3 separate regions of the Homo sapiens genome follow, and all the other regions are reported to be linked to region 1. The links are microRNA targets in miRTarBase. Many come from high-throughput screens and were not tested one by one. Region 1 holds a microRNA gene; each other region holds the end of a gene's coding sequence. Distances are from middle to middle.

The links. The annotated mature microRNA hsa-miR-6740-3p reads UGUCUUCUCUCCUCCCAAACAG and lies in region 1 at 3,792-3,813, shown strand. An mRNA with a match to its seed (bases 2 to 7 or 8) in the 3' UTR can be bound and repressed. Matches are read on the target gene's strand: a 7mer-m8 pairs with bases 2 to 8, a 7mer-A1 pairs with bases 2 to 7 and ends in A, and an 8mer does both.
Region 2: the mRNA of CYB5R4 is a reported target of hsa-miR-6740-3p. Seed matches in the 3' UTR shown: 8mer at 2,443-2,450.
Region 3: miRTarBase lists EDN2 as a target of hsa-miR-6740-3p. The part of its 3' UTR that is shown has no 7-base or 8-base seed match.

The regions. Positions count from the first base shown.
Region 1 is chr1:201,999,424-202,007,607 of GRCh38, forward strand. MIR6740 (microRNA 6740) reads left to right here and starts at 3,701; the gene lies at 3,701-3,813. It overlaps RNPEP (arginyl aminopeptidase), which reads left to right. Exons shown (of 11, transcript NM_020216.4): 6 at 479-592; 7 at 1,953-2,065; 8 at 2,236-2,344; 9 at 3,814-4,038; 10 at 4,931-5,073; 11 at 6,135-6,720. The coding sequence ends at 6,293. ELF3-AS1 (ELF3 antisense RNA 1) reads right to left here. Exons shown (of 2, transcript NR_146472.1): 2 at 628-904. RefSeq lists an enhancer at 4,909-5,551.
Region 2 is chr6:83,958,497-83,966,680 of GRCh38, reverse strand. It overlaps CYB5R4 (cytochrome b5 reductase 4), which reads right to left. Exons shown (of 16, transcript NM_016230.4): 16 at 1-6,857. The coding sequence ends at 6,803. RIPPLY2-CYB5R4 (RIPPLY2-CYB5R4 readthrough) reads right to left here. Exons shown (of 18, transcript NR_174604.1): 18 at 1-6,857. Among named protein-coding and RNA genes, the nearest start is that of LINC02857, 58 kb to the left of the region's middle.
Region 3 is chr1:41,472,515-41,480,698 of GRCh38, reverse strand. EDN2 (endothelin 2) reads left to right here. Exons shown (of 5, transcript NM_001956.5): 5 at 1,197-1,924. The coding sequence ends at 1,290. Among named protein-coding and RNA genes, the nearest start is that of EDN2, 8.1 kb to the left of the region's middle. RefSeq lists an enhancer at 3,061-3,767.

The sequences.
Region 1 (8,184 bases):
GGCTACTCAGGAGGCTGATGCAGAAGAATCGCTTGAACCCAGGAGGAGACGGAGGTTGCAGTGAGCCAAGATCACGCCATTGCACTCCAGCCTGGGTGACAGAGTGAGGCTTTGTCTCAAAAAATAAAATAATAAAATAAATGAAATAAGATAAAATAAAAATACAGTACTTTGATAAGGAAAGGTAACTGTCAGAAAGGTGCGATTCCCCCAGTCCTCACTTAGGAGAGAGACCAACAGCCTGAGTTAACCAAGTCCTTTGTAGCCCACAGCAACAGGGAGCTAGGGACTGAGTCAGGCTCTCTGTAACTGTCCCTATTTGCCCTGGGTCCCCAGGAGGGTAATGTTATTAAGCTTCAGGTATCTGTCGCTGTTCTTCTTGAGGCCACAAGGAGGCAGCACAGTGTCTCTGTCAGGAAAATACACTTGGATGTGGTGACAGACGTTTTCCCGAGGCTTACGTTTGATTCTGCACCAGGCGCTGCGTACACCTGCTTGGAGGCTGCAACGGGGCGGGCTCTGCTGCGTCAGCACATGGACATCACTGGAGAGGAAAACCCACTCAACAAGCTCCGCGTGAAGATTGAACCAGGTCCAGGAGGCTCCTCTGTCTGACACCCACTCCCCTCAATTGAGCTTGGAGCCCCAAGTTAATGCGAACTTCATGTTGATCAGTGCACGCTTAGAATACTTTATTTGGAGGGAGGGGCACTCCAGAGCTCTTTGTAGCCAATTCTCTGGCCCCTGGGCTGACTGAACCCAAGCCATTGCAGCCAGATAGGAGTTCTGTCCAGTCTGTGCGGTTCGTGATGACTTCACCATTGCTTTGCATTTGCACAAGTCCATATCGTTTTACCAGGCTCTTTCGCATTCCTTCATGATCATCAGGGCAGATCTGTGGATTCTGTAGAATAAAAGCATTAGCCTTATTTTACAGAGGATGGGACTGAGTGCCAGACAAGTTAAGTGTCTTGTCCAGGTCATGTACCTAATCAGTGCATGACTGCAACTGAGATCCGGGTCCTCTCTCCAAATTCAGATCTTTTTACTTCCTAACATTTTCCTTCATTCCATGTGTGACTAATCTGAAACCTTTTTATGCAATTGAAGCTCATGTTCCTTGATGCCGTTAAGTTTGCAGATGAATTTCTTAGAGACGGGTAATTAGTTTTAGCCTGGAACAGCTGTAAAAACAACACATTGGCTGGGCATGGTGGTTCACGCCTGTAATCCCAGGTCAAAGCGGGTGGATCATGAGGTCAAGAGTTCGAGACCAGCCTAGCCAATATGGAGAACCCTGTCTCTACTAAAAATACAAAAATTAGCTGGGTGTGGTGATGCACACCTGTAATCCCAGCTACTGGGGAGGCTGAGGCAGGAGAATCGCTCGACCCCAGGAGGCAGAGGTTGCAGTGAGCTGAGATCGTGCCACTGCACTCCAGCCTGGGTGATAGAGCAAGACTCCGTCTTAAAAAAAAAAAAAAAAAAACATTGATCTGGGAGGGTAGGTTGAGTATTTAGGTGGTGACCAATAGGGATGGAAAAGACACAGCTTGGTGCTCAGTGGGAAATGCTGATGGAACCTACCCACACAAAGTGTATCCTGGGACTAAGGAAATGTGTCCGCTCCTCTGGAAGGCTGGTTTCTCTGTCTTCATATTAGATCCACAGTGAATGGCCCTCTGAGATCTTGGAAGTACCTTGAGAGAGGCCAATATCTGGAGAGAGATCTTGGCCTTGAGATAGAGATCTTAAGAGAGAGAGTCTTGGCCTTGAGAGAGTCCAAGATCTGGAGAGAGGCCAGGATCTGGACACCTTCTTGGCCTTGCTGTCCCTGGGGAAGCTGAATTCTGATCTCTTCCATCGCTAGTCTTTGACTGTGGAGCTAGAGAAGAACGTTACGGGTGACAGGCTACAAAAGCTCAAATCTTGTCTGCTTTCTCCTCTGCCAGGCGTTGACCCGGACGACACCTATAATGAGACCCCCTACGAGAAAGGTTTCTGCTTTGTTTCATACCTGGCCCACTTGGTGGGTGATCAGGATCAGTTTGACAGTTTTCTCAAGGTATAGTCACATGAGGGGAGAAGGAAGAGGAGCGGATAAAGCCACTGGGCCTGATCAAGGGTAGAGGCAGGGGGCGAAAGATGTAAGGGGTTGGAGGAGGACCCAGGACACAGAGGGACACCACTCCCCACGGGGCCAGAGAGGGTCTAAAGAGCTTTCCCTCCTCACAGGCCTATGTGCATGAATTCAAATTCCGAAGCATCTTAGCCGATGACTTTCTGGACTTCTACTTGGAATATTTCCCTGAGCTTAAGAAAAAGAGAGTGGATATCATTCCAGGTAAGCAGAGGAACTGGCCCACAGGCTTCTAAAAAATAGTAGAGAATGAGATCTCATTGACACTCGGAAAGATGGTGGTGGATGGGAAAACACTGGGTCAGAGTCAGCTAGGTAGGGGCGTTTTGGGAAGCAAACCCAGAATCCTGGGATTTATTCCACAAGAATGACTTCTTTTCACTCCTCTCTGCCTCATTTTCTCCCAGTCTGTTTCCTTACTCTCTCCTCTCACCTGGACACACAGTCAGACCCTTAACTTGCCTGGAGAGCTGCCACTGCTGCCGCACCACTGCCCCAAGCTAAAACTCACAGGGCAGGAGCGGAGGCAGCACCCCTCCTACAGCCTTCTGAGTGAAGGCAACCCCAGTGGCCCTCCTTATTTCTTTCTTTCTTTTCTTTTCTTTTTTTTTTTTTTTGAGATGGAGTTTCGCTCTTGTTGCCCAGGCTGGAGTGCAATGGCACGATCTCGGCTCACCGCAACCTCCGCCTGCCGGGTTCAAGCGATTCTCCTGCCTCAGCCTCCCGAGTAGCTGGGATTACAGGCACGCGCCACCACGCCCGGCTATTTTGTATTTTTAGTAGAGACGGGGTTTCTCCATGTTGGTCAGGCTGGTCTCGAACTCCTGACCTCAGGTGATCCACCTGCCTCGGCCTCCCAAAGTGCTGGGATTACAGGCGTGAGCCGCTGTGCCCAGCCGCCAGTTTCTGCCTGGGAGGTACCACTTCCAAAGAAAAAACGAAAAATGTCCTGTCATGGAAGACACAATCCATTAGACATACCCCCACTTCTTGCTGTGACCTGAACCTTGAGTCACTCTATTGTTGGTTTGATGAAGTCCGCGTCCTCTGACAGTAGGATTGGTCAGGACTTTAGCAGCACCTACTGTTCGGTTGGAGGCTTGCATTTTAATGCGGGGACTCCGGAGCTAATGGTAGTTAATAATTCCAGAGTACTTACTATGCATCAGGCGATACGCTAAGCTTTTAATGTTTATTTGCTCATGTAATCCTCATAACCATCACGGAGGCAGGGCCTATCACCCCCACTTTATAGATAAAACTGAGGTGCAGAGAGGTGAAGTAACATGCCCGTGGCCTCCCAGCTGGTTAATGACAGAGCAGGGGTAGGAACCCAGGCAGCCTGGTCCTAGAGCCTGGGTGCTTAAGTACAGTGTGGTTGTGATCGGTAGGAGAATGTGCACGTGAATAGAGCATCCACCAACTTGGCTCTGACAACACAGTGCTAATTTGGAGCGAAAAGCACTTTCACGGTCGAAACGGCACAGTCTCTAGATGTCGTTATAACTAGGACCCTGCTGGAGCGAATAGTTACATGGGAAAGTAATGTTAAATGCTGGGGAAAGAGTTTGGGATGGAGAGAGGAGAAACTTGAGGTCTCTGGGAGTTGCTTAAACCAGTTGACCGTAACCTGGCCAGAGAATTCTGATAGTGTCTTCTCTCCTCCCAAACAGGTTTTGAGTTTGATCGATGGCTGAATACCCCCGGCTGGCCCCCGTACCTCCCTGATCTCTCCCCTGGGGACTCACTCATGAAGCCTGCTGAAGAGCTAGCCCAACTGTGGGCAGCCGAGGAGCTGGACATGAAGGCCATTGAAGCCGTGGCCATCTCTCCCTGGAAGACCTACCAGCTGGTCTACTTCCTGGATAAGATCCTCCAGAAATCCCCTCTCCCTCCTGGTAAGAAAAAATGGTGAACCAGGGCTCCTTGTGTGCACAGCTTTATGTCAGGGGCTAGAGGGAGGCTCACAAAAAGTAGTGATGCTTGCCCCTAGGGAACTGCCACGTACACTAGGGAGGCTGGCACTCCACAAGGAATGTGCCACCGGGAGGTTATGGGTTAGGGGACTGCCACGTACACTAGGGAGGCTGGCACTCCACAAGGAATGTGCCATCGGGAGGTTATGGGTTCTACTTACAAGCACCTCAAGGACAAAGTCACAAAGCCTGGCATTGCTCAAGTCCGAAGCTCCTGCAGGCGACTCTTGTAAGGCTTTTGTGTCTATTAAGTCATTTAATTCCCACAACTCCTCTGGGAAGTAGGCGGTGTGATGTTAATACCCAGGTGACAGAATGAACTTGAGGTACAAACAGTTCGCACAGAACCCAGTCATCCAGAGCTCTCAACCTCTAATGCTTTGTGGCTGCTCAGTCAACATAATATTCACCAAGGGGTTAAAAAAAAGTTAGAGCCAAGATGACTTTTAGCAGATGAGTGGTAGGAGAAAAAATGGGACAGATATTGGGGGAATATGTCTGCTTTAATCTTGCTCTGTCGACCAGGCTGGAGTGCCGTGGTGCTATTGGCTCACAGCAACCTCCACCTTCTGAGTTCAAGTGATTCTTGATTCTAGCACCTCAGCCTCCAAGTAGCTGGGATTACAGGCGTGCGCCACCACACCCGGCCAGTTTTGTTTGGTATTTTTAGTAGAGATGGGGTTTCGCCATATTGGCCAGGCTGGTCTCACATTCCTGACCTCAAGTGATCCGCCCACCTCAGCCTCCCAAAATTCTAGTATTACAGGTGTGACCCACCGTGACCAGCCACAAACCATTTCTTTCTCTTCTCCAGGGAATGTGAAAAAACTTGGAGACACATACCCAAGTATCTCAAATGCCCGGAATGCAGAGCTCCGGCTGCGATGGGGCCAAATCGTCCTTAAGAACGACCACCAGGAAGATTTCTGGAAAGTGAAGGAGTTCCTGCATAACCAGGTGGGTGACCCCTGCCTCGCTGTTCCCGAAAGCACACTGGGACCCACTCGGCCATATGTGAAGTAATCATGTGGGCAGGGCTCATCTAGGACTCATCTGAGGCACAGAGGGAGGGGCAAATGACCTGAGGACCCTACCACTCAGCCTCTTTACTAGTGTGGCTTTGAAGGCATTGCCCTAGGGACAAGAGGAGGCCTGCAGGCTTGCAGTGCTTTCTGCAATTCAGCTGGTGAGACCCCAGGGAAAAAAGCTGGCCAGAGCCAACGCAGAGGCGGGAAAGAGGGTGACAGTGTCATGTGGGAAACACAAGAGGGAAAGGGGCCAGAGGCGGAGCAAGAGGAACAAAGGCTTGGAGGATAGGTCCCTGCTGCCCTGTGACTTGGGCATGATCGGGACAGCAGCCAGACCCTCTGTCACTATGTGAAAGTTGCCCTGTTGGGGAAAGGCCCCGGGCTCTCAGGATGAACTGAATGTCATCAGATTCCGGAGCAGGGAGGGGCTGGACCGGAGACGAAGCATTGCTCTGCATAAAGTCAGGGCTGCCTGCCTGTTCGGGGATATTCTGAGCCCTTTGATGGCTTCCTCAAGGCTCTGGATTTTAGGAACTTGTGATGTCGCTGGCTTATATTTGTGTGAATTTGACCTGTGGGTTGACCTGTGGGTTTTCCTTTGCTTGACTGCAGCTGGACCGTATGCGGCTGTGAGCTTTATGTGCCGCAGCTGCTGATATCTGCTATTCACGTGGTGGCTCACCACCTACACCTTTCCAGAAGTCTGGAATCCCATTGTGTCCACCCAACTCATTCATTTTGTTGACTGTAGACGTCCCCATGTTAGTATGGATTGGGACGCGTATTGAGATCCATCTCCATGGATCTCTGGCGCCCAAGAAGATGCCTGAATTAGAGCACTTCTGATGAGAAGCTCCTCATTCCAGCTGTGATGCCCACATCCCTTTTAGCACCTAGCCATGGCTGCTGTTAGACTGGCACTGGGGGCAGCAGGGCTGGACAGATCCACCAGGCAAGCTTCTTAGGCATGTGTATGTGTGTTTCTTGCAGGGGAAGCAGAAGTATACACTTCCGCTGTACCACGCAATGATGGGTGGCAGTGAGGTGGCCCAGACCCTCGCCAAGGAGACTTTTGCATCCACCGCCTCCCAGCTCCACAGCAATGTTGTCAACTATGTCCAGCAGATCGTGGCACCCAAGGGCAGTTAGAGGCTCGTGTGCATGGCCCCTGCCTCTTCAGGCTCTCCAGGCTTTCAGAATAATTGTTTGTTCCCAAATTCCTGTTCCCTGATCAACTTCCTGGAGTTTATATCCCCTCAGGATAATCTATTCTCTAGCTTAGGTATCTGTGACTCTTGGGCCTCTGCTCTGGTGGGAACTTACTTCTCTATAGCCCACTGAGCCCCGAGACAGAGAACCTGCCCACAGCTCTCCCCGCTACAGGCTGCAGGCACTGCAGGGCAGCGGGTATTCTCCTCCCCACCTAAGTCTCTGGGAAGAAGTGGAGAGGACTGATGCTCTTCTTTTTTCTCTTTCTGTCCTTTTTCTTGCTGATTTTATGCAAAGGGCTGGCATTCTGATTGTTCTTTTTTCAGGTTTAATCCTTATTTTAATAAAGTTTTCAAGCAAAAATTAAGTTACGGATTGAGTGACTATTAAATTTCTTCCACCAGAGGTCCTCACTGTGTTTGTTCAGGAAAGGTCACTGGGGGAGGCCCAGAGAATGACAGTATTTTCCTGTCCTCAGGGAACAGCCAGGGTGAAGGAGGTGGGTGTCCTACACATGCATATGAAAAAAAATATGGCAAAATGGCACAGCTGGTGCAGGAAAATGAAAAAGGAATAGCATTCCAGTTCTCCGTGAAGCAGCTGAATTCTCTATCTGCAGCAGCATTCCCATTATCTTTTCCATCACTAAGAAAAAAAAATGGGCTGGGCACGGTGGCTCATGCCTGTAATCCCAGCACTTTGGGAGGCTGAGGCGAGAGGATCGCTTGAGCCCAGGAGTTTGAGACCACCCTGGCCAACATAGCAGGACTTCATCTCTACCAAAAAAAAAAAAAAAAAAAAAAAAAAGCCAGGCGTGGTGGCTCACGCCTGTAATCTCAACACTTTGGGAGGCTGAGGCAGGCAAATCACTTGAGGTCAGAAGTTTGAGACCAGCATGGCCAACATGGTGAAACCCCATCTCTACTGAAAAAAAAGATAGATGCAAAAATTAGCCAGGCATGGTGGCTCACACCTGTAGTTCCAGTTACTTGGGAGGCTGAAGCAGGAGAAACACTTGAACCTGGGAGGTGGAGGTTGCAGTAAACTGAGATCATGCCACTGCACTCCAGCCTGGGTGACAGAGTAAGACTTCTCAAAAAAAAAAAAAAAAAGCTGGGCGTGGTGGTGCATTCCTGTGGTTTCAGCTACTCAGGAGGCTGAGGCAGGAGGATCACTTGAGCCCAAGAGGTCAAGGCCACAGTGAGTCTTGATTGTGCCACTGAACTCCAGCCTGAGTGACAGAGTGAGACCCTGTCTCAAAAATAAAAATAAAGTGTCTTATGACTTTTTATCTACCCTTCTGCCCATGCCCAAGGCTTCACTGGGCCTCACCTGTCTTTGATCCTAGATAACTATTTGAATGGTAATCAGTAAAGTCTTTAGAACTTAGCACTAAATTCTGATTTCCTGGCCTCAACATGGGGACCTAAACAGTTAGCAATCTGGGTTTGGGAGTGGGATGAGGGGAGGGTTGGAAGAAATATTTAGTGTGTTTCATTTGCCTTTCTTAAATACAGGGCACCCCTGAAACAGGCTTTGTTCGCAGCTCTGCTCTGTCCTCGGATTTAGGTTATCGAACAGGCTTCCTCCCTCCCCTGCACAAGGGTTGGGAATGAGTCGATTTGCTTTCACTCAGCAAGAGCAAGGGACTAGTGGTGACCAAGTGGTAGACTGGAGAGGCCTCTGCCCCGTGGCACACAGCTCCACCATCAGAGAGGGTGATGTGGGTCATAGGTGAGGGATCTGGAGGCCCGGTATCGGAAGAGCTTCTCCAGGCACTGGCATTTTGACAGCAAACTGCTTCCGTGGCTCTTTCAGGACTGTTCCTGGC
Region 2 (8,184 bases), not on the chromosome of region 1:
TCACTCTTGTTGCCCAGGCTGGAGTGCAAAGGTGCAATCTCGGCTCACCGCAACCTCCGCCTCCCGGGTTCAGGCAATTATCCTGCCTCAGCCTCCCAAGTAGCAGGGATTACAGGCCTATGCTACCACACCTGGCTAATTTTGTATTTTTAGTAGAGAGAGGGTTTCTCCATGTTGGTCAGGCTGGTCTCAAACTCCCGACCTCAGGTGATCCACCCGCCTCGGCCTCCCAAAGTGCTGGGATTACAGGCATGAGCCACCGCACACAGGCCTCCTTTTTATTTTTATTTTTTTAAAGATTTATTTTTACTCTTTTCTTCTTATATAATATGTATTTCCTCTTATGTTCTTTCTAGTTTAGTCTTAGTACCCAAAAACATTTTTATATCTTTACTGAGATATGGTTCAAATTAGATACAATTCATCTACTTAAAATGTACAATTCAACATTTTTAGGTATATTCATAAGTATGTGCAACCATAACCACAGTAAACTTCAGAATATTTTAGCATTTCAAAAACACCCTCCCAACCCTTTAGTTATTATCCCCTATTCCTGTATCCCCTGAACAGCCACTTAATTACTTTATGTCTCATAGATTTTCCTGTTCTAGACATTTCATAGGAATAGAATCACTGCTGATAAAGACATACCCAAGAAATTAAGCCAAGAAAAAGAGGTTTAATTGGACTTATAGTTCCACATGGCTGGGGAGGCCTCAGAATCATGGCGGTAGGTTAAAAATACTTCTTACAGGGTGGCAGCAAGAGAAATGAGTAAGATGCAAAAGCGGAACCCCCTGATGAAACCATCAGATCTCATGAGACTTATTCTCTACCATGAGAACAGTATGGGGGAAACCACCCCCATGATTCAAATTATCTCCCACCAGGTCCCACGTATAACACATGGGAATTATGGGAGTATAATTCAAGATGAAATTTGGGTGGGGACACAGAGCCAAACCATATCATCCCACCCCTGGCTCCTCCAAATCTTATGTCCTCACATTTCAAAACCAATCATGCATTCCCAACAGTACCCCAAAGTCTTAAATCATTTCAGCATTAACCCAAAAGTCCACAGTTCAAAAGTCTCATCTGAGACAAGGCAAGTCCCTTCCACTTATGAGCCTGTAAAATCAAAAGCAAGCTAGTTACTTCCTAGATACAATGAGGGTACAGGTATTGGGTAAATACAGCCATTCCAAATGGGAGAAATTGGCCAAAACAAAGGGGTTACAGGGCCCATGGAAGTCCAAAATCCAGTGGGGCAGTCAAATTTTAAAGCTCCAAAATGATCTCCTTTTACTCCAGGTCTCACATCCAGGTCACGCTGATGCAAGAGGTGGCTTCCCATGGTCTTGGGCAGCTCTGGCCCTGTGGCTTTCAGGGTACAGCCTCCATCCTGGCTGCTTTCATGGGCTGGTGTTGAGTATCTGCAGCTTTTCCAGGCACCTGGTACAAGCTGTAAGTCGATCTACCATTCTGGGGTCTGGAGGACAGTGGTCCTCTTCTCACAGCTCCACTAGGCGGTGTCCCAGTAGGGACTCTGTGAGGGGGCTCCAACCCCACATTTCCCTTCTGCACTGCCCTAGCCGAGGTTCTCCATGAGAGCCCCGCCCCTGCAGCAAACTTCTGCCTGGGCATCCAGGCATTTCCATACATCTTCTGAAATCTAGACAGAGGTTCCCAAACCCCATTTCTTGACTTCTGTGCACCCACATGCTCAACATCACATGGAAGTTGCCAAGGCTTAAGGCTTTCACCCTCTGAAGCCATGGCCTGAGCTTCATGTTGGCCCCTTTCAGCCATGGCCGGAGTGGCTAGGAAACAGGGCACCAAGTCCTTAGACTGCACACAGCACAAGGACCCTAGGCCTTGCCCACAAAACCATTTTTACCATTTTTTCTTCCTAGACCTCCAGGTCTGTGATAGAAGAGGCTGCCACAAATGTCTCTGACATGCCCTGGAGACATTTTCCCCATTGTCTTGGAAATTAACATTCAGTTCCTTGTTACTTATGCAAATATCTACAGCCAGCTTGAATTTCTCCTCAGAAAATAGGATTTTCTTTTCTATCGCATTGTCAAGCTGCTAATTTTCTGAATTTTAATGCTCTGCTTCCCTTTTAAAACTGAATGCCTTTAACAACACTTGAGTCACCTCTTGAATGCTTTGCTGCTTAGAAATTTCTTCCACCAGATACCCTTAATCATCTCTCTCAAGTTCAGAGTTCCACAAATCTCCAGGGCAGGGGCAAAATGCCGCCAGTCTCTTTGCTAAATCATAACAAGAGTCACCTTTGCTCCAGTTCTCAACAGGTTCCTCATCTCCACCTGAGACCACCTCAGTCTAGATTTCATTGTCCATATCATTATCAGTATTTTTGTCAAAGCCATTCAACAAGTCTCAAGGAAGTTCCAAACTTTCCCATTTTCCTGTCTTCTTCTGAGCCCTCCAAACTGTTCCAATCTCTGCCTGTTACCAAGTTCCAAAGTTGCTTCCACATTTCCCGGTATCTTTGCAGCAACACCTGCTCTACTGGTACCAATTTACTGTATTAGTCCATTTTCACGCTGCTGATAAAAGACGTACCTGAGACTGGGGAAAAAAAGGGGTTTAATTGGACTTACAGTTCCACATGGCTGGGGAGGCCTCAGAATCATGGCAGGAGGTGAAAGGCACTTCTTACATGGCGGCCGCAAGAGAAAATGAGTAAGATGCAAAAGCGGAAACCCCTGATAAAACCACCAGGTCTTGTGAGAGTTATTCACTACCATGAGAACAGTATGAGGGAAACTGCCCCCATGATTCAAATTATCTCCCACTGGGTTCCTCCCACAACACATGGGAATTATGAGAGTACAATTCAAGATGAGATTTGGGTGGTGACACAGAGCCAAACCATATCAGGATGTTTGGGTTGTTTCCACATTTTAACTCTACGTGTAATGCTGCACCCAAGATAATGCTTCCATTCCATGAATGGGGGATATGCATCAAAAGAGAACTTTAACAAAGAAAGTAAACTCATTTTTGAATTTTAAGATCACTTTGGCATTCTGTTTTGAGGTCTGCTAAACTTGCAATGCTGGGTGAAAATGACTTCAAAATAAAACCAATGTTGAAAGACACCAAGAGACTGTAACTACTTGAGATTCCATTTTTCCTTTATAATTTATTTGCCACAATGTTAAATACTGTAGATCATACAGAATCTGTTTTTTCTGCCCAAAAATGGGGGTCTGTTATCAACAGACTCAGCCCCAACCTCGTTCAGGACAAGCTTGTGTGGTTCAGAAGGTAGATCACAGAGCAGGTTGTACCCATGCCTTTGCCAGCATAATGAAGTTGACTCTTTTGGGGTGGGTGTCAAAGCTCCTCTCATGTTCTGTTACATTAAGGTAAAAACTGAGGGCCCATAGCAAGGGCCCCTATCTAGACAAAACCTAATCATCTTATCTTGGACAAATTTCTCTGTTCTTTCTATAGCCTGTGGTAGACACAATGTGCCCATCAAAGATGTCAACACCCAAATGCCTGCAACCTTTGAATATATTATATAGGAAAAGGGACTTTACAGCTATAATTAAAATTATAGATTTTTAAAATAGGAAGATTACCCTGGATATCTGGATAGGTCCAATCTAACCACATGAGATCTTAAAAGCAGTGAACTCTTGCTAGGGCAAGAAAGATATGGCAGAAAGGGAATTCAGAGAGATTGAAAGCATAAGATTCATCTACCAATGCTGAAGAAGCCCACAAGGGAATTCAGAGAGACTGAAAGCATGAGATTCATCCACTAATGCTGAAGAGGGCCACACAGAAAGTATGAGAAGGAATGTGGGCAAATTCTAGAAACAAAGACTAGCCCACAGCTAACAGCTAGCAAGGAAATGGGGAACTCAGTCCTACAACTGCAAGGAACTGAAATCTACCTAATGAGGCTGAAAGAACTCTTATCTAGGGACTTCCCCTTACAGCCTCTAGCTAAGAGCCCAGCTCAGCTGACAATCTGATTACAGCCTTGTGAGGCTTTAAGCAGAGGACCCAGTTGAGCCATATTGTGCCTAGATTTCTGTGCCATGGAACTGTGAGATAATAAATGGGTGTTGTTTTAAGCTACTAAGTTTGTAGTAATTTGATCTAGCAGCAATAGAAAATTAATAAACTTTTTTTTAAAAAAAGCAGAATTTGCAAGCAAATGTGACTTTGAGCGTAATTCTTCTTCACTGCAAATATGTGATGTAGGAGTCTTTGAGTTATTTGCTTGAGAATAACAGTGATAAACTATACTCCTATCTGTGCTCCTCAGTATTTGGTTGCATTCATTGGAAGACTGAGGCTCTACTTAGGGGATTTTTTCCTCCAAGTCCTTCTAGAATACCCTGGAATGGAGAATGAATTTTAGGAGATCAGGACTGCAGCATGAAGATGAATTATCAAGCTACTGTACTAATCCAGCTGAGGGATGATAGGACAGGGTTAGCTGGTATGGAAGAGTCAGACTGGAGAAGGGGACATTGATGTTGATTCCTAATAGTTCTAGAATGGCTTACTAGGTGGATGGTGGGGTGGTATGCAGGAAGTAAATGGATATTGAAAACTGAAGCTCAGCTGATTCTCAAATTAGTCACTCCCATTTGGGAATTAACATGTAAGTTGATAAAATCATGTCAGTGGAGATTACCCAGGAGACACTTATGGATTTGTTTTAAAATATAAACAAAATATAAATATAACAAAATATAATAAAATATAACAAAATATAAACAAAATATAAATAAAATATAAACAAAAATATAAAACATAAAAGGAGGAATGAGGAAGCATTACATATAGCGACTAATAGGAGATTCTGTTGCTTGGGAAAGGAGAGAGAAAAAAGAAGAGGCTTAGAAAAGATGAGAAAGATGTTGGCTAAGTTAGATTTGATACATCGCAAATGAACTAAAAAAAAGTGGTAAATAGTCTCTTTTTATATTAGTCTATTTTCACACTGCTATAAAGAACTACCTGAGACTGGGTAATTTATGAAGAAAAGAGGTTTAATTGACTCACAGTTCTGCATGGCTGGGGAGGCCTCAGGAAATGTACAATTATGGTAGAAAGCAAAGAAGAAGCAAGGACCTTCTTCATAATACAGCAGGAGGTGGGGAGGAAGTGCCACACTTTTAAACCATCAGATCTCATGAGAACTCACTTACCATCATGAGAACAGCATGGGGGCAATCACTCCCATGATCCAATCACCTCCCACCAAGACCCTCCCTCGACATGTGGGAATTACAATTTGAGAGGAGATTTGGGTGAGGACACAGAGCCAAATCACCTCACCCTTAGATGGAAAAAAATAAGTAGGGGGAAGGCATGAAGCTAGAAAAAGTTCTTGTTACCTACCAGGGAACAGTACCAGTCCAGGACAGCTAGATTCCTGTCTTTGTGAATAATGATGATGGTGGAATTGGCTACAGAAGACAGAGGCACAGGAAAAAGTGATAGTGTTCAACCAGCCATTTGCACATAGGAAGCTTCACAAGCTGGGCGTCTGTAATTTGGGGAATATTAATATTGTGTTCCTCTTGAGTATATTATTCATTCAGCAAAGATTTAGCTGTTTACAAAATCATTTACAGAGAAATTGGAGACTCTTTCAATCCCCTATTTCTGTGAAAACATTGCAGCTGTACTAAGACTGAAAAATCCTAGTTAGCTTATACAGTAGCTACCTATGCATTCAACAGTTTCCTCACGAAAAGCTCACAATGACTATCCTTGATACCCTTTGCTGATCTGAATCTGTGAAAGTATTTGACAGTTGCACAAAGCAGCAGGAAGAGAAAATAAGTTGCCCACATGCAAGAACCTAAGAGGGCTTCCTGCTGAACCACCAGTTGTGGAGAAAGCAGCCAACCAGGGGAAGAACCATTCAAGGCAGAATGTTCCTCATTTTTCCAGCTGATTTAGATGGACTAAAGAATTAAAATTCAACCCATTCCAAAGCACCAAATAATAACTTTATGCTGTGGAACTAGACACTATACTTTCACTCTCTTTCCTAATGTCTTTGTTTTTGGCTAAGAGTAAAAATAGCTGTCAAGGTTCCCTCTCTCAAGCTCTGTTAACACACCTAGTCCAAAGGCGCATGTGTGTCATGTCTCTAATATATTTTATTGCTGCCTTTTAAAATTCCCCTTGAGACGCTGGCCCAATATTGTTGCATTCAACCACATTTCTACCACAAGGATTAAAAAGAACTTAAGTATAATTTTATTCTATTCTGCATCAATGCCATACACACACAAAAAAATGTTTGGATCACTTAATAAGTTATAACATTCTATGTTTTAACATTAATAACAAGGACATAAATGATCATTTCCTGAGTTAACAGTGCAAGGTAAAATTTAATCTGTATTGCTAATAAGACATTTTACAGCATAGAAACATGATCGAAGTGATCATTTACTTTATCATGTCATAAAACACAAGTGCTTATTGTAGAACAGTGATATAATTTAAATGGCAAGGAAATTTGTGATTCATAACAAAGAATCCTGTATGTATTTGTTGCCATGATTAACTTTCCAGGTCAAATATCAGTAGTAAAATAAGTTGTGGTACAAAAGAAAGCCAAGAAGTTACCTGTACTGAAGGAACATTTGATTTCATTTAAGAAACTGAAGGCTGGATTCTAGTTAACCTTTTGTTATGTACAAAAATGTTCTCTTAAAAAACCCTAAGCAATCACAAATTTAGATAAACTAGTTGAATAAAGGACAATGACAGCTCTTCATTATGCTGTAAAACTATGGATCTCATTTTTGGAAAAGTTGAGATCATGCAGCAACCTGAAAAACAAATAAAAAGCACATGTTTCTTAGGGAAAATGCTTTAAAATGAAGAAATAAGAGCAGTTTACCACCATAATCATGATACTTTTTCATTTTCCCCATTCACTATGTAGTTTTTTTTAAATAAAAAAACACTATCACCTCTTAAAAAATTAGTGATTAGTAACTCCTAAATATCATGAAATATCTAAGCAGTGCTCAAATTTTCAACTAGCTCATAAATGTCATAATTTTAAAAAATAGTTTCAATCAATAGCCAATTAAAATTTACTCATTATGATTGGCTGATAAGTCTTTTAGGCATCCTTTGATCTGTAAGATCCCCCAGACCCCCACTCCATCCTGCAATTTATTTGTTGACAAAAATCAGATTTTTATTTGTTGAGTCTCCTAAAACCTTCATTTTTCTACATCCCTGTGGTATTCCTTAATAATATGTCTTTATGTCCTCATATTTTCCATAACTTAATATATGGATCTAGAGGCTTGATCAGACACAGGTTCAAATCTTTTTGACAAGACTATTTCACAGGTAATGTTCCTCTATCTGGAGGCATGTAATAAATGGTTGCCTCTCTTTTTGAGTGCTAGCTACCATTATGATCTATGTATAGATCCATTAGTTCATTAAGCACTGCAATTGGTGATATTCTACTTCTATCATTCTTTATTCATTAATCAGCTGAGGAATCCTATAAAGAAAAATGTCTGCTCATTTATTATGTGATTATTCAGTAGTATGGCTCATATAACAAAGGGAGAATAAATGTTTGATTTTTTTCCCCTTTATTCACCAGTTTTCAAAGAAAGGAGTTGATTCCCCTACGATTCTATCTTCATTCTCCCCCTACTGAACAGGAAAAGCAGAAATACTGCGTATTGTTCAACTAGGAAAATAGTATAATAACTACTTTTTTACCACTTACTCTATTATAAATGTCACTTTGCTATGCACTTCACATGCATAGGTATTATTATTTATTCATTTTTATAGATAAGTGCACTAAAGCTTAGAAGGGTTAAGAACTGCCCTAGGACACCCAGCAAATGATTGTAAGATGCTTGTAAGTGGTAGACCTGGGATTTAAACCCCAGCTGGCAGCTCCCAGAGGGCATACACATACTCACACAAAGGGCCAGTAGGGCACAGGAGTTGAAGCCAACACAGTGCAGCAGTAAAGCCTCTCAGTATCTGGGCCCATGCTACCATTCCATCCTGTTCTCCCAGGCAAGCAGCTTCACTCTAGCCAAACCAGTCTAGTCTTTTGTATAAATCTGCACCCCTAATGCATCTGCCAGTTCTCCCTGCCTGTACTATCCCCTT
Region 3 (8,184 bases), 160 Mb from region 1:
GAGTCAGACCTGGCCCCCAGGAGGTGCCCACGAATGCTTGTTCAACCAAACCAACTCAAGAACAGACACTTGCACCTGCCGGGCAGCAGAGTGGCTGTAGGGGCAGCCTCTGGGGCAGACTGCTTGATCTGAACCCCAGCCCAGCCTGGTACAAGCTTTGTGACCTTGGGTTTGCCCCTCAACTTCACTGTGCCTCTAGTTCCTATGATTTGAACAGGAGAAACAGGGAAATTGTGCCATCCATCCCCGCCTGGGGTTGCTGTGAGGTCAGATGAGTGGACGCACATGAAGTGTGTAGACCAGGGTCTGTGCCCGTGGGAGCTGTGGAGGGGTTTGCCATTCCCACTTCTGTCACTGAGGGTTCCTCACAGCTGGCCAGGTCCCAGGGCCCAGCTCAGCCCTTCAGAGATTCTCACCTTTTGGGGGCGGCAGAAAAACAGGAGAAAAGGCAGGATGGTGGGATGGACGGGACCCAACATATACTTAGGAACTTTCTGAGAATGAAAAATATGAGTACAAGACTTTTCAAAAGCGCACACTTCATAGTGTGCAGAGCTGGCTCGGCCAACCTTGTACTCATTCTCAGCAGTTCAGGCCTGTTTTTGTTTTACAAGCTAAGAAAGGGGATCAGAGAGGCTGAGATTGTTGCCCAAGTTTCCTTAGCTAGGAACTGAAGCCAGCCTCCTGGCTCCCAGTTTAGAGTTCTTTGAGCCAGGATGTGGCCACCCAGCCAGGTTCAAAGGGCAGCGGGGTGCCCTGTTTTCTGGGCTGGACTACCTTGAACTGGACCTCGAAGAATGAGTAGAATTGTAGCAGGTGGCTTCTGGGTGAGGGGAATACACACAGCCTGGAGGGAAGAGCAGGAGCAAAGGTGTGGAAAGCTGTGGAAAGAAGTGGGAAGGCAGATGACGGGAGACCCACAGGGCTGTGCTTGGCTGTCCACTCATTCTGGCAGCATTTGATGTTGAACCTTAGCTCTGTCAAAGCCCCCATGTGCAGAGAAGCTTCAACGCCTGGGCTGGCCTGCGCTGGTTGTGCAGACCTTGTTTTCAGGCTGTGGTCACTGTCTGACCCCAGGGCCGCTGTGACCCCAGGATCTGGGCAAGGGCTGTAGCCCCATTGCCCCTGCTCTCATGGGGAGCTCTTGGACAGTCCATATCTCCTGAGATGCTAAGTTGACCCTTCTTGATTCCCAGGGACATTTCCACAGTCAAGAGCCTCTTTGCCAAGCGACAACAGGAGGCCATGCGGGAGCCTCGGTCCACACATTCCAGGTGGAGGAAGAGATAGTGTCGTGAGCTGGAGGAACATTGGGAAGGAAGCCCGCGGGGAGAGAGGAGGAGAGAAGTGGCCAGGGCTTGTGGACTCTCTGCCTGCTTCCTGGACCGGGGCCTTGGTCCCAGACAGCTGGACCCATTTGCCAGGATTGGCACAAGCTCCCTGGTGAGGGAGCCTCGTCCAAGGCAGTTCTGTGTCCTCGCACTGCCCAGGGAAGCCCTCGGCCTCCAGACTGCGGAGCAGCCTCCAGTGCTGGCTGCTGGCCCACAGCTCTGCTGGAAGAACTGCATGGGGAGTACATTCATCTGGAGGCTGCGTCCTGAGGAGTGTCCTGTCTGCTGGGCTACAAACCAGGAGCAACCGTGCAGCCACGAACACGCATGCCTCAGCCAGCCCTGGAGGCTGGATGGCTCCCCTGAGGCTGGCATCCTGGCTGGCTGTGTCCTCTCCAGCTTTCCCTCCCCAGAGTTCTTGCACCCTCATTCCCTCGGGACCCTCCCAGTGAGAAGGGCCTGCTCTGCTTTTCCTGTCTGTATATAACTTATTTGCCCTAAGAACTTTGAGAATCCCAATTATTTATTTTAATGTATTTTTTAGACCCTCTATTTACCTGCGAACTTGTGTTTATAATAAATGAGGAAACATACTCTGGTTTTTTGTCTTGGCCAAGGCAGGGTGTTGGAGGCTTCTCTCAAGAAGGGGCCGCTTGGAAGTTGGAGGACACAAGAAGGAAAGGGCTGGGGCAGGTGGCTAGAGCGCTGGGTTCCACTCCCACCCTTGCTGGGTGTCTCTGGCTGCTAGCCTGCCCTCTCTGGGCTTTTGTCTGTCATGTGCCTCGACAGCCACCTGCAGCTGTGACGTCAGGATTCCAGGAGCTATGTTCTCATCAGGCCAGTAATCAACGGCCATCCCTTTTCCAGGAGCGTGTGTGGAAGAAGCCAAGACACGAGGGTGGAGGGACTCATCGCCCCAGCGGCTCTGTCCCAGCAGAGGCTGACAGTAAGGCTCAGAGCAAAGCTGTCCAGCGAGGGAGAAGACCAGGTGAACCCCAAGGCTGTGGGTGCCCCACTGGTCAGTGAGGGGTGCTGTGATGGAGCCACAGCTTGGCCCTGGCTTGGCCCCTCACCTTGGGCTTTGGACATGATAAATACTTGCTGATTGAATTCATGAGTCACCACTGCAGTATGATGTTGAACAAATCTCTTTCAGTTTCTGAACCTCAGTTTTCTTCATCTAGAAAATGGGAAGCAATTGTCCCCACGTCGCAGAGTTGCTGTGGGCACTAAGCAGAGAAGTGATGGTACCAGGCTCAGCCCAAGGCCTGACAAGAGGCAGAGGCTGCTTGTGGGGCTGGCAATGGTGATTATGGAATGAGTGGGACGGGGACAGAACTAAGGGGCCTGATGGGGGGGCAAGATGGGGGCTAGCTGGGGTGGAGGTGGGTGGTCATAGGAAGAGTCTGGACAAAGGTGCTACTCTTGTGGCCTCAAAAGATATGCAAAATAAATAGAAAGACTCAAAAGAGGCCAGGGGTGGCAACTCACGACTATAATCCCAGCACTTTAAGAGGCCAAGGTGGGAGGATGACTTGACTCCAGCAGTTCAAGACCAGCCTGGGCAATATAGGGAGACCCTGTATCTACAAAAAAAAAAAAATGTTTTTAATTAGCTGGGTGAGGTGGTGCACACCTGTGGTCCCAGCTACTCAGGAGGCTGAGGCCAGAGGATTGCTTGAGCCCAGGAGCTCGAGGCTACAGTGAACTATGGTCGTGCCACTGCACTGCAGCCTGGGCACCACAGGGAGGACCTGGCTTAAAAGAAAAAGAAAAAGAAACACTCAAATGACTTGAATACATAGAAAGAAAATAGGGAGGGAATTCCAGGCAGAGGGAGCGGGGAGGATGAAAGTATGGAAGTGGGAGTAACAAAGAAGCTTCCTTAGGAGGGGCCTCAGGTGTCTGGACCATGGCAAGGGGGCAGCAGCAGGACACAAAGCCAGAGAGGCCTTGAAGGTCAAGGTTAGGAGCCTCGACTTCCCCTTGTGGGCCACAGGAAGCCACAAAGCTCTGTGAGCAGCAGGGGACCTCGGCAGAGCTGAGCTTTGGAAATATGCCACAGAGGGCTGGCCAGAGCTGAGTGAATGAGGAGACCAGTGGCAGAGAAGCAGTCATCATAAGTCCTTAGGGATCCTCCGCGCATCCTGGTGATGAGGCTGGTGTCACGGGGTCAGCCCAGGCACTTGTTGCCTACTCCAGCCCAGGGCCAGAGCGCACCTCTCACGTTTCAGCTGAGCTTGATGCCAGGGGAGCCTCGCTCCCTGGGAGTGCATCACAGGCTCCCATTCAACATGACCCTGCCCCTGAAAAACTCAAATGCAACAGCCCATGGCCAGGCCAGGCAGCTGGGTAAGGCAGCCTTAGGGCCGCAGCTATGACAGAGGCCTGGCAGCAGCATGAGGAAAACCTGGCGGAGGGTGTGTTGGAGGGAAGCATTCACCGCCCTTGGCACAGGCCCCGGGGACCCTGGCCAGGGTTCAGAGATCAGTGACCCAGATGATTGAGCAACAGAGATGATTAAAGTAGTAGAGGAGGCCCAGAAGGCAGGGACAGGTAAGGGTGACACTACAGTCCTTTAGACCCATACACCTTGGAAACAGGGGCCTCTGGCTGGGGCCCTGCACTGCAGGGGGGCCCTGTTCTGGCCCTCATCCAGCCATACCTCTCTATGGGACAAAAAGTTTGCAGGGCCACAGGGCCACATATGTCCGAAGTCTGTCCTTGCTTCCAGCCCACACTCCAGGTAGTTGGGACTTCAGCCATGTTGGGGAAGGTGGGCTAGAGTTTGGAAAGAAGTAGAGAAAAAGCTACAAGGAGCAGCTACCAGGTCAAACCGAACCCTGGGAAGAAGGCATCTAAGCTTCAGGAAACTTGGGTTTTCTGGGACAAAATCTCCCCTCCTCCTGCCTTTTCCATAAATATAGAACAAGCGTTTTTCAAGGCTTTTTGAGTCAAATTTGTGTTCCTTTTAACTGGAACACTAGGCAGAGACAGGCCAGAAGGGGGCACAGGATGACCCAGATTTATTCGGATTATGTGGACAGGAGGAAGCTGAGGCAGAGAGCAGTTAGGTCCTGTGTCCAGGGCTGTGAGGCTGCAGACGGGGCCCTTCGCAGCCTCTCCACAGCCCTCACTCAGGAAAGAGCCCTGTGGAATTCTCTCTCTCTCTCTTTCTCTCATTGAAAATAGAGTCCAGGTAGCTAAGTCTTCAGTTCAGAAAAGTCATTTGCCTAATCACGGTGACAAACTATTGGAATGTGGCCATCCATTAATTCAACAGTTATGAATAATCACCCCTGGGAGGACTCTCGTGAGCAAGACAGACACAGTTCCTGCCTCATAGGCCAAGAGGACAGTCATTCAAGAAAACAACAGTTAAATATGAAGATAAGAATCGCAGCAAACATTCACTGAGCACTTACTAAGTGCTTTCCACATATTAACTCCTTGGTTCCTTACAGCAACCTTATGTAGCAAATTCTGTCATTACTATTTCCATTTGATAGGAAAGGTTACTGAGGCACAGAGCGGTTAGTAACTTGCTCAAAATCATATAGCTAGGATGTGGCTTAGCTGGGTTTTAAACCCCAGGCTCTTAACTTCCGTGCTATCCTACCTCTCTAATAGGGTATGTCCACACTGTGATGGAGCCCCTGAGGAGGGGGAGCCCAGGGTGGCTTCCTGGAGATGGGGACATCTAGGCCAACTCGGGGGAAGTCGGTCAAGGAAGAGGGTGGAGAAGAGCATTCCAGGCAGAGGAAACAGCATAGGTGAAGGTTCCTGTCTTCATAGGAAGGGAGCTATTCCCAGCCTCTTTTGGGGAGTAAAAGGAGAGGTCCTGGGAACGGCTGGAAGGGGCAGGCAGGAAGGGGCAGTGCATGCCTGAGCACCAGACCAAGCCCCGAGCATCTGGCATGGGGGTGCTCTAGGAAGCAGAGGCCACCACCTCTTTCACCCCCACCACAGCCTCAGAAAATGCCTCCCTGGAAAATACTACCATGCCCAGCATGCCCTCCATGAGGGCTTCAGGCCTCTGGAAACCTCTCTGGCTGCCCGCTCAGGTCTCACAGCCTGGCAGGGAAGACAGACAAGAGCAAAACGAAGGTCCAGAGGTGGAGCTGGCCTTGTAGCTGGTGGGATGGGGGGTGAAGGACTGGCAAGGCTTGTGCAGGCTGGGATGAGGGAAAGGGCTTGGTGGGAATGGTGTAAGGCAGATCTGGCCAGGGCATGAGAGAGTCCAGGGAGGGGCAGCAGGCCTGATCAGCAGGGGCCAGGCTGGGAATAGCATCCGATGCCAGGAATTTGAACTTGAGTGATAGGTAGCCAGCGAAGGTTGCTAAACGAGGGAGAGCCAGGACGGGAGCTGGCCTTGGGTGGCTGGTTTATTGTTGGCTCCTTCCCGGCCAATGCTTCCAGCTCACAAGGGCCCTCCCAGCCCCTCTCAGGGGAGAGCAGAGTGTGGGCCTCGCCTTGGCCTGCCAGGGATCCAAGCCAAAAGCCCTCGGCAGCTAAGAAGGGGGCCGTGTGCGGGCCCGCCAGGAGCCCTGGAAGAGGAATGCAGCCTAATTAATTCTCTGCAGCTCACAGGGCCTCGCCTTGTGGGAGCAGCTGCCAGGACAGGCCTGCCAGGATGCCACTGGCCCAGCCTGTCGATCACTTGGTGCTGAAAGCAGCGAGGGGGACTGCAGGCTGGGAACTGGGGGACGGGGACTCGGGGGGCCAGCCCCTGCCTCCAGGCACACACGTGTCCTCCAGTCCCTTCACAGCTAATAAAACAGTCATAGTAACTGTAATAGCCAACAGGCCTTGAGGCTGTCAGAGCACCAGACTCTGCCAGTACACTGAGTACTAGTGAGAACATTGCATTCACTTTTCTTACAAGAAGTAAGATAAGTGTTGCTCTCATCTCCATCTTGCAGATGAGGAAACTGAGGCTCAGAGAAGCGAATTTCCCTGCCCAGGGTCATGCAGTTAGAAAGCAAAAGCAGGGAAGCTGGGATGTGGACCCAGGCAATCTGGGCCCCCAGACTGTATTAATCATAACCACCATGCTAGACTGGTTCAGCAAGGGAAACTGAGGCCCTGGGGAGGCGGGGTGTCTTTCTCAAGGACAATTGGCTTAAAAAGGGCCTGGGGACACTGGCTGGATGGGGAAAGGCCATGCCCCTGGCCTCTGCTTGAATTGCCTCCTCCTGAAGTTTCCTTCCCTGGCCTGCAGGTCCCCCTGAGGGATGTCTGGCTCACTACCTCCAGGCGAGGCAGGCTGTGGAAAGTGATCCTGTCTCTGGGGTCTCTACCTATTTGGTCCTAGTTCCACTGCCTGGGGCCTGTCACAGAAGCACAGTACCAACATTACCCAAGGAGTCTCAGGCTAGTCTGCACATGCTCAGAGAATCCTTCTGCAACGCTATGACTCCCTCCACAGGCAGGACACTGAGGCCAGCAGAGGCTCAGAGTGGTGCAGGAAGGTGCTGGACCAAGACCTTGCCACTAGAAAGTGGCAGAGCCTAGGCGGGCTCCAGAATAGCCTGATGCCAAGACCCTGCCCTTCCCTGACAGCAGACCGGAAGGAGGGGCAGAACATCCATGTCATGCTGCCTCTCCGAGCCTCAGTTTCCTCATCTGCCATATGGGGATGAGGAGCCCAAGGTTACAGGATTGTCCTCGGGTTCATTAATAACAGCCAACACTAAAGGCACTTAGTAGATGTCAGATACTGTCCTAAGTACTTTATTTAATTTTTTTTAATTTCCAAAACCAAAATTTTATTCATAGCTACATAATACATCATGATACAGCTGCCCCATAAAATACCATATGTGGGCATGTATTACCCTGTAGGTGTATATTTAAGTTTGTCCAATTTCCCACTGAAGAAGATCAGAACGTGCCACCCCAAATATGCCACTTTTGCATCAGGATTGTTTTGAGCTAAAGGCAATTAAGAAACTGCACGTGTAGAAAGAGCTCTTTGCCCTCCCACATCTGCCCAAAAGCGGGACATAAATTTTCCTTTGGGAAGATTCTTCTCCTTCCCTCTCTTATAGCAGGAAGAGAACAACCGTTAGTTAGCACTGAAGACAAAAAGTCAGTAAGAAGACGAGTCTGCACAAACCAATCTTGCTGAAATCACCCTGATCTTCCATTAATTTCCCCACATATTTATCTTCCCACAATTTGCCACCCCTAGGAACACAAAGCCCTTTTCCTTTATCTTGTCATTTCTCCACAAATGTATCATCCTTTGTTAAAATGGTAGGGGGCTTATATACCATTTTAACAAAGGGTCTTCACTTCTTTTCTATGAATGCAATCAATGCCTTCATGTACATCACAATTAAAGTAGGAACATCAAATAAAATCTGTATGCCTTTTCTCCTGTTCATTAGTCTTTTGTCAGTTTAATTTGCAAGCCCCAGTCACAGTCTATAAAAGGATACAGGAAAACAATTTTTTTCCTCCCCTACACCACCAATAAAATAACACTGTGTGGTACACTTGTACATAAATTTTTCTATTTATTCCCTATTTATTGTTTGGCTACATTTTAAAATTGAGATATAATTTATACACTATAACATTCACCCTTTCAAGGCACACAATTCAGTGGATTTTAATCCTCACTTAACATCGTTGATAGGTTCTAAGGGACTGTGACATCAAGCGAAATGTTTTTCTCATCAATGTAACGACAAAACTCCATTGAAGGAAACATTATTCGAGGATCTACTCTACATTTCTTTCCCGCTAAAGTCACCATTTCCAAGAACCTATCAACAACGTTACGTGTGGATTTATTGTTTTCACAGAGTTATACAAGGATCACCACTGTCTCGTTCCAGAACATTTT